2 linked regions of the Homo sapiens genome follow. The protein of the gene in region 1 purifies or fractionates together with the protein of each later gene. This does not show direct contact. Each region holds a gene or a part of one and is shown in the gene's direction. Other genes may lie near its edges.

Region 1 (2,830 bases):
TAACTCAATAAACGGTAGGATAGACCTACCATGTGCCGGCTCACTTTTATTGAGCCTTTACTATGTGCCAGGCAGGGGGCTAAGTGTTTTTAAATGCCTTATTTCACTTCATGTTTCCCAACAACCTAATAAGAAGGTCTTAGTTATCTTCATTTTACAGATGTGGCAACCTCAAAGATGCAAAGTCACTTGTCTAAGGTCACCCTGCTAAGTACCAGAGCTGAGGTCTCCAACCTAGTTCTGTTTGACTTCAAAGCCTGCCCTCTTAACCACTAACCTTTTGTCCTAGTTCAGTCAAATTCTGCTTGATTATTGCTCATTAGGGATAATATTAGCTATCTGTAGCATCAGATTGCTGCAAAGTTAACTCATCGTAGATTCTCAATATACTCCATTTTATTAAATGGCCCCGTATTAATCTCCTGTAATAAATTTCACAAATCCAGTGGCTTATCAACAGAAATTTACTGTCTCATAATTCTGGAGGCCAGAAGTCAAAATCAAGATGTGGTAGGGCCCTGCTCCCTCCAAAAGTTTAAGGGGAGAATTATTCCTTGACTCTTTCAACTTCTGGCAGTCCCTGTCATTCCTTGGCTTGTGGAAACATCACTCCTACCTCTGACTCTGTCTTCATATGGCATTTCCTCTGTGTCTCTTGGTGTCTTTTTTTTTTTTTTTTTTTTTTTTGAGACGGAATCTCATTCTGTTGTCCAGGCAGGAGTGCAGTGACATGATCTTGGCTCACTGCAACCTCCACCTCTCAGGTTCAAGTGATTCTCCTGCCTCAGCCTCCCAAATAGCTGGGACTACAGGCACCCGCCACCACACTCAGCTAATTTTTGTATTTTTAGTAGAGATGGGGTTTCACCATCTTGCCCAGGCTGGTCTTGAACTCCTGACCTCAAGTGATCCGCCCACCTTGGCCTCCTAAATTGCTGGGATTACAGACGTGAGCCACCATACCCGGCCTGGTGTCTTTTTTAAAGAATATCAGTCACTGGATTTGGGCCCACCCTAATCCTAATAGTATGACTTCATCTTAATTTAACCAATTATATCTGTAGAGACCCTGTTTCCAAATAAGGTCACATTCACAGATTCCAGGTGGACAAGAAGTTTAGGCGGACACTATTCAACTCAGTACAGACCCAGGAACAAAGTCCACCCACTGGGCTGTGTTGAGTGGCAGTCACTAGTTTATCCTCCCTCAACAAGATGAGCTCCAGGTTGACCTCTGCATCCCCAGTGCTCAGTCAGGACCCAGCAGAGCATCTGAAGGGATCTGGTCAATATGTGTGGAACTGAACTGTTTCTGAAAAGCTCTGACGTATGTTTTGGAAAATCAAATCTTGTTTTAATCCAGACACCAATCTTTTTGTAAGGCAAACAAGTAGCATAAATGTTTAAAAGTGAATTTGCATGTTTATATACTGTCATTCCTTAAAGTTGAAGCATGCCTTTCTTTATTCATCGGTGGAATCCTTTCTCATTTTGGCAAAGAAAATGCCCAAGTGCCTGGCACAAACAAGCACTGAGTAAATACTTCTTGAATGAATAAAACTAGATTCTAAAAATCATTTGATCAAACGCAACTCCACACTTTCTACTTCTCTTCTTTTAGAACCACACTGTATTTCTGCTTTTTTTTTTTTTTTTTTTTTTTTTGACATAGAATCTCACTCTGTCACCCAGGTTGGAGTGCAGTGGCATGCAATCTTGGCTCACTGCAACCTCTGCCTCCTGGGTTCAAGCAGTTCTCCTGCCTTAGCCTCCCATGTAGCTGGGATTACAGGTACCCGCCACCATGCCCAGCTAATTTTTGTATTGTTAGTAGAGATGGAATTTCACCATATTGGCCAGGCTGGTCTTGAACTCCTGACTTCAAGTGATCCACCCACCTTAGCCTCCCAAAGTGCTAGGATTACAGGTGTGAGCCACCACTCCCAGCCCCTATGTCTGCTTTAAGTGGAGAAGCAGAGCTTATGAGGGAGGAGAACAAGGGTGCAAAAGGGACCTAGATATCACTGAGAACTGCCCTTGTTGTTTGGTTGAGGAAATGGGCCCAGACAGTGGACAAGACTTGCTCAGGGAGACAAACGAGATGGTGTCCAGTGCAACAAACCTAGGTTTCCTAACTTCCAGTTCTGTCCACTCTACATCAGTGCCTCTCACCTGTCCCTGCAGGTTCACATTTTGGTTATGTGGATAAGGAGAAATAAATTGAAGATCACAATGTCCCATTTTATCTTCCCCAAGACAAGCTCTGTAACATTAAAGACCACTATGCAAACCGATTACTAGAAAATGTGTGTGGATGGGTTCGGTTTTTTTCCTAAGGTGTTCATGCTTACTGTTTTGGGCAATATTTCAACATAATCTGGCAGAAAAAGAAACAGAAGATAAAGAAAATAGCTGTAGGCCGGGTGCAGTGGCTCATGCCTGTAATCCCAGCACTTTGGAAGGCTGAGGCTGGCGGATCACTTGAGGTCAGGAGTTCGAGACCAGCCTGGCCAACACGGCGAAACCCCATCTGTATTAAAAATACAAAAATTAGCCAGGCGTGGTGGCGTACCTGTAAACCCAGCTACTCGGGAGGCTGAGGCAGGAGAATGGCTTGAACCCAGGAGGTGGAGGTTGCAGTGAGCTGAGATTGCAGCACTGCATTCCAGCCTGGGCGACAGAGCAAGACTGCATCTCAAAAGAAAAGAAAAGAAAAAAGAAAAGAAAAGAAAAGAAAACAGCTGTGATTCAGCAATAGTCATTTTCTCTCCTTGTCACTGCCAGAGTGAGGAAGTGCTGGGTTCTGTCAACATAGGCTCTGACTTCTCAT
Region 2 (3,656 bases), on another chromosome or scaffold:
AAAGAAGCTGGTGAATTAAAACCTGAAGAAGAAATAACTGTAGGGCCAGTTCAGAAATTGGTTACTGAAATGGGTACCTATGCAACTCAGAGTGCCCTTAGCAGTTCTAGACCCACCAAGAAAGAGGAAGACAGGTAATTTATGGCACATATACCCTGCCAGCTGTACTACTTTTATTATTACTCTTGTATGTAAGACAGTCAAATGATTTCTTTCCTCTTGCTTTTGCAACCAAAATGAAAATCTTTGCCATTTAAGGTACTTGAGAAGCGGAGGATGTTTAAGTTCTTCCCCCTAGGAATTGTATTGATGGTTTTAATTCTCTGTCCCTTCCAGTGTTTTTATGGAAATAACTGTTCTGTTTAAACTCAAATTATTTTTACTCAGAAAATGCTAAGTGGGGGTAACTGAAGATATTTGAGTTTTGTTGTTTATTAGCATCTGAAAACATTTTGAAGATTTTTCAATTTCTAAATGATGGAATAAAATTGTGCATTTTTCTATTAAGTAAATTTTAATGGTGAAGATGGTGAAATCTTTGCCTAAAATTTTACTGAATACCCACTAAGTGCTAGGCATTGTGCTAAGTAGTTTGTCTCATATAGTCTTGACAATAAGCCTTTGAGATAGAATATATTATCTCCATTTTATGGAAGAAGAATTTGAGGCTTACCCAGTAAATAAACAGGTAAGCTGGAATTCGGAGGTACTTCATTAGCTGCAATTACGTATGCCCCTAATTAAATATTGTATCTTTCCATATTCTGATGGCTTTTGTGTCATTCAAAGATAAGTTTTCTTTTTTTTTTTTTTTTTTTTTTTTTTGACACAGAGTCTTGCTCTGTCGGCCACGCTAGAGTGCAGTGGCGCGATCATGGCTCACTGCAACCTGTCTCCTGGGCTCAAGCAGTTCTCCTGCCTCAATCTCCTGAGTAGCTGGGATTACAGGTTTGTGCCACCATGCCCAGCTAATTTTTGTATTTTTAGTAGAGACGGGGTTTCACCATGTTGGCCAGGCTGTCCTCGAACTCCTGACCTCAGGTAATCCGCCCGCCTTGGCCTCCCAAAGTGCTGGGATTACAGGTGTGAGCCACTGCACCTGGCCAAAGATAAGTTTTAAAGTCATGTATTATTTTTCTTTTTCCTTCTTTCTTCTGGGAGCTAAGGAGTTAGTTAGCTAAGGTATCCTTATCACTGAAGGATGGTAATAAGAGTGTTTAATAGGCCTATATCATTCATTTATACAGAAGCTGCATGCTGCTTAGCAAGTTGGTGGGTTTGATTTTCCTTGGTTGCTTTGCAGACCTCCCTTGAGAGGATTCCTTCTGGATGGAGATTTCTTTGTTGCTGCCTCCCTTGCCACAACTCTGACCAAGATTGCATTGCGCTATGTAGCTTTGGTTCAGGAGAAGAAAAAGCAAAATGTAAGTTCATTTATTTTACATTTAACCAACAATTAAACATTGAGTGCCTACTATATGCATTGAACAGTGAGGGACTCAAAAATTAATGCTAAGTTTCTGTCATGAAAGAGTTTATGATTTAATAGCAGAAGTGGACACAGTAATATATTACTCTAAAATTGATAAAGTATCTTCCTCTTCTGTTTGGGCTTTAAAAAAATGAAAATTGACAAAGTAATACAATAACAATGTCATGTGATTATTCCAGTGGAAGAGAAAGGATTTATGAAGTCACCTCAGTTTGCTGGGATTAGTTCAGGACCAGTGAAGGAAATGTCCTTCTCTCCAGCATCTGCATCCATTCGGTCATTGTCTGTTTTATCCCAGAATGTCTCTTAAGTTATTCTCATCTGTAGTTCATGCCTGCTTTGTAGCTTCTGACCGTTCTAACCAAACACCCATTTACAATGGTATGCAGTTGGTCCTCCATATTCACAGCTTCTGCACCTGCAGATTCAACCAACTATGGATTGAAAATATCTTTTTTAAAAAATGATAAACAGTAAAAAATAATAGAAAGTTGAAAACAATGCAGTGTAACAATTATTTACATAGCATTTACAGGCATACTTCATTTTATTGTACTTTGCACATATTGCTTTTTTTTTTTTTTTTAAACAAATGAAGGTTTGTGGGAACCCTGAGTTGAGCAAGTCTGTTAGCATCATTTTTCCAAATAAGCATATGCTCACTTCATATCTCTGTGTTACATTTTGGTAATTCTCACAATATTTCAAACTTTTTCATTATTATTACATCTGTTATGGTGATCTGTTATCAGTGATCTTTAATGTTACTATCATAGTTGTTTTGGGATGCCAGGAACCATTCCCATATAAAATAGTAAACGTAATCAATAATTGTTGTGTGTGTTCCGGCTGTTACCCCGTCTCTTTCCTCCTTGGGCCTCCCTATTCTATTCCCTGAGATACCACAATATTGAAATTAGGCCGGTTAATAATCCTACAGTGGCTTCTAAGTGAAGGGAAGAGTCACATGTCTTTCACTTTAAATCAAAAGTGAGAAATAATTAAACTTAGTAAGGAATGCATGTCAAAAGCTGAGCTAAGCCAAAAGCTAGGCTGCTTTTGCCAAGTAGGTAGCCAAGTTATGCATGCAAAGGAAATGCTCTTAAAGGAAATTAAAAGTGCTACTCCAGTAAACACATGAATGATAAGAAAGTGAAACATTTGGCAGGCGTGGTGACTCACACCAGCACTTTGGGAGGCCCGAGACAGGCGGATCACGAGGTCAGGAGTTCGAGACCAGCCTGGCCAACATGGTGAAACCCTGTCTCTACTAAAAATACAAAAATTAGCCAGGTGTGGTGGCAGGCGCCTGTACTCCCAGCTACTTGGGAGGCTGAGGCAGGAGAATTGTTTGAACATGGGAGGCAGAGGTTGCAGTGAGCTGACATCACACCACTGCACTCCAGCCTGGGAGACAGAACAAGACTCCGTCTCGAGGAAAAAAAAGAAGAAGAAAGAAAGCGAAATAGCTTTATTGCTGATAGAAAGTTTGAGTGGTCTGGATAGAAGATAAAACCAGCCACAAGATTCCCTTAAGCCAAAAGCCTAATCCAGACTAAGACCTTAACTCTCTTCAATTCCATGAAGGCTGAGAGAGGTTAGGAAGCTTCAGAAGAAGAGTTTGAAGCTAGCAGAGGTTGATTCATGAGGTTTAAGGAAATAAGCCCGTCTTCATAATGTAAAAGTTTGACATGAAGTAGCAAGTCCTAATGGAGAAGCTGTGGCAAGTTATCTGGAAGATCTAGCCAAGATCATTGGTGAAGGTGACCACACTAAACAACAGATTTTCAGTGTAGACTAAACAACCTTATATTGGAAGAAGATGCCATCTAGGACTTTGGTAGCTAGAGAGAAGTCGGTGCCTGGCTTCAAAGCTTCAAAGGATAGGCTGACTCTTTTGGTAAGGGCTAATACAACCAGTAACTTAAGTTGAAGCCATTGCTCATTTCCCATTTTGAAAATCCTAGGGCTCTTAAGAATTGTGCTTAATCAACTCTGTCTGTGCTCTGTCAGTGGAACAACAAAGCCTGGATGTCAGCACATCCTCTTTACGGGATGGCTTACTAAGTATTTTAAGCTCACCATTGAGACCTACTGCTCAGAAATAAAAGACTCCTTTTAAAATATTACTGTTCATTGACAATTTAGCTGGTCACCCAAGAGC

Evidence for each region.
Region 2: the proteins of CNR2 (region 1) and COPB1 purify together in Homo sapiens (affinity purification with mass spectrometry; one large-scale study listed by BioGRID and IntAct). This does not show direct contact.

Annotation. Positions count from the first base shown.
Region 1 is NC_000001.11:23,869,990-23,872,819, reverse strand, and holds the end of CNR2 (cannabinoid receptor 2), read left to right. Parts: 3' UTR 1-2,305; downstream 2,306-2,830. UniProt on the Homo sapiens protein: Heterotrimeric G protein-coupled receptor for endocannabinoid 2-arachidonoylglycerol mediating inhibition of adenylate cyclase. May function in inflammatory response, nociceptive transmission and bone homeostasis.
Region 2 is NC_000011.10:14,472,263-14,475,918, reverse strand, and holds part of COPB1 (coatomer subunit beta), read left to right. Parts: coding exon 1-134; intron 135-1,303; coding exon 1,304-1,424; intron 1,425-3,656. UniProt on the Homo sapiens protein: The coatomer is a cytosolic protein complex that binds to dilysine motifs and reversibly associates with Golgi non-clathrin-coated vesicles, which further mediate biosynthetic protein transport from the ER, via the Golgi up to the trans Golgi network.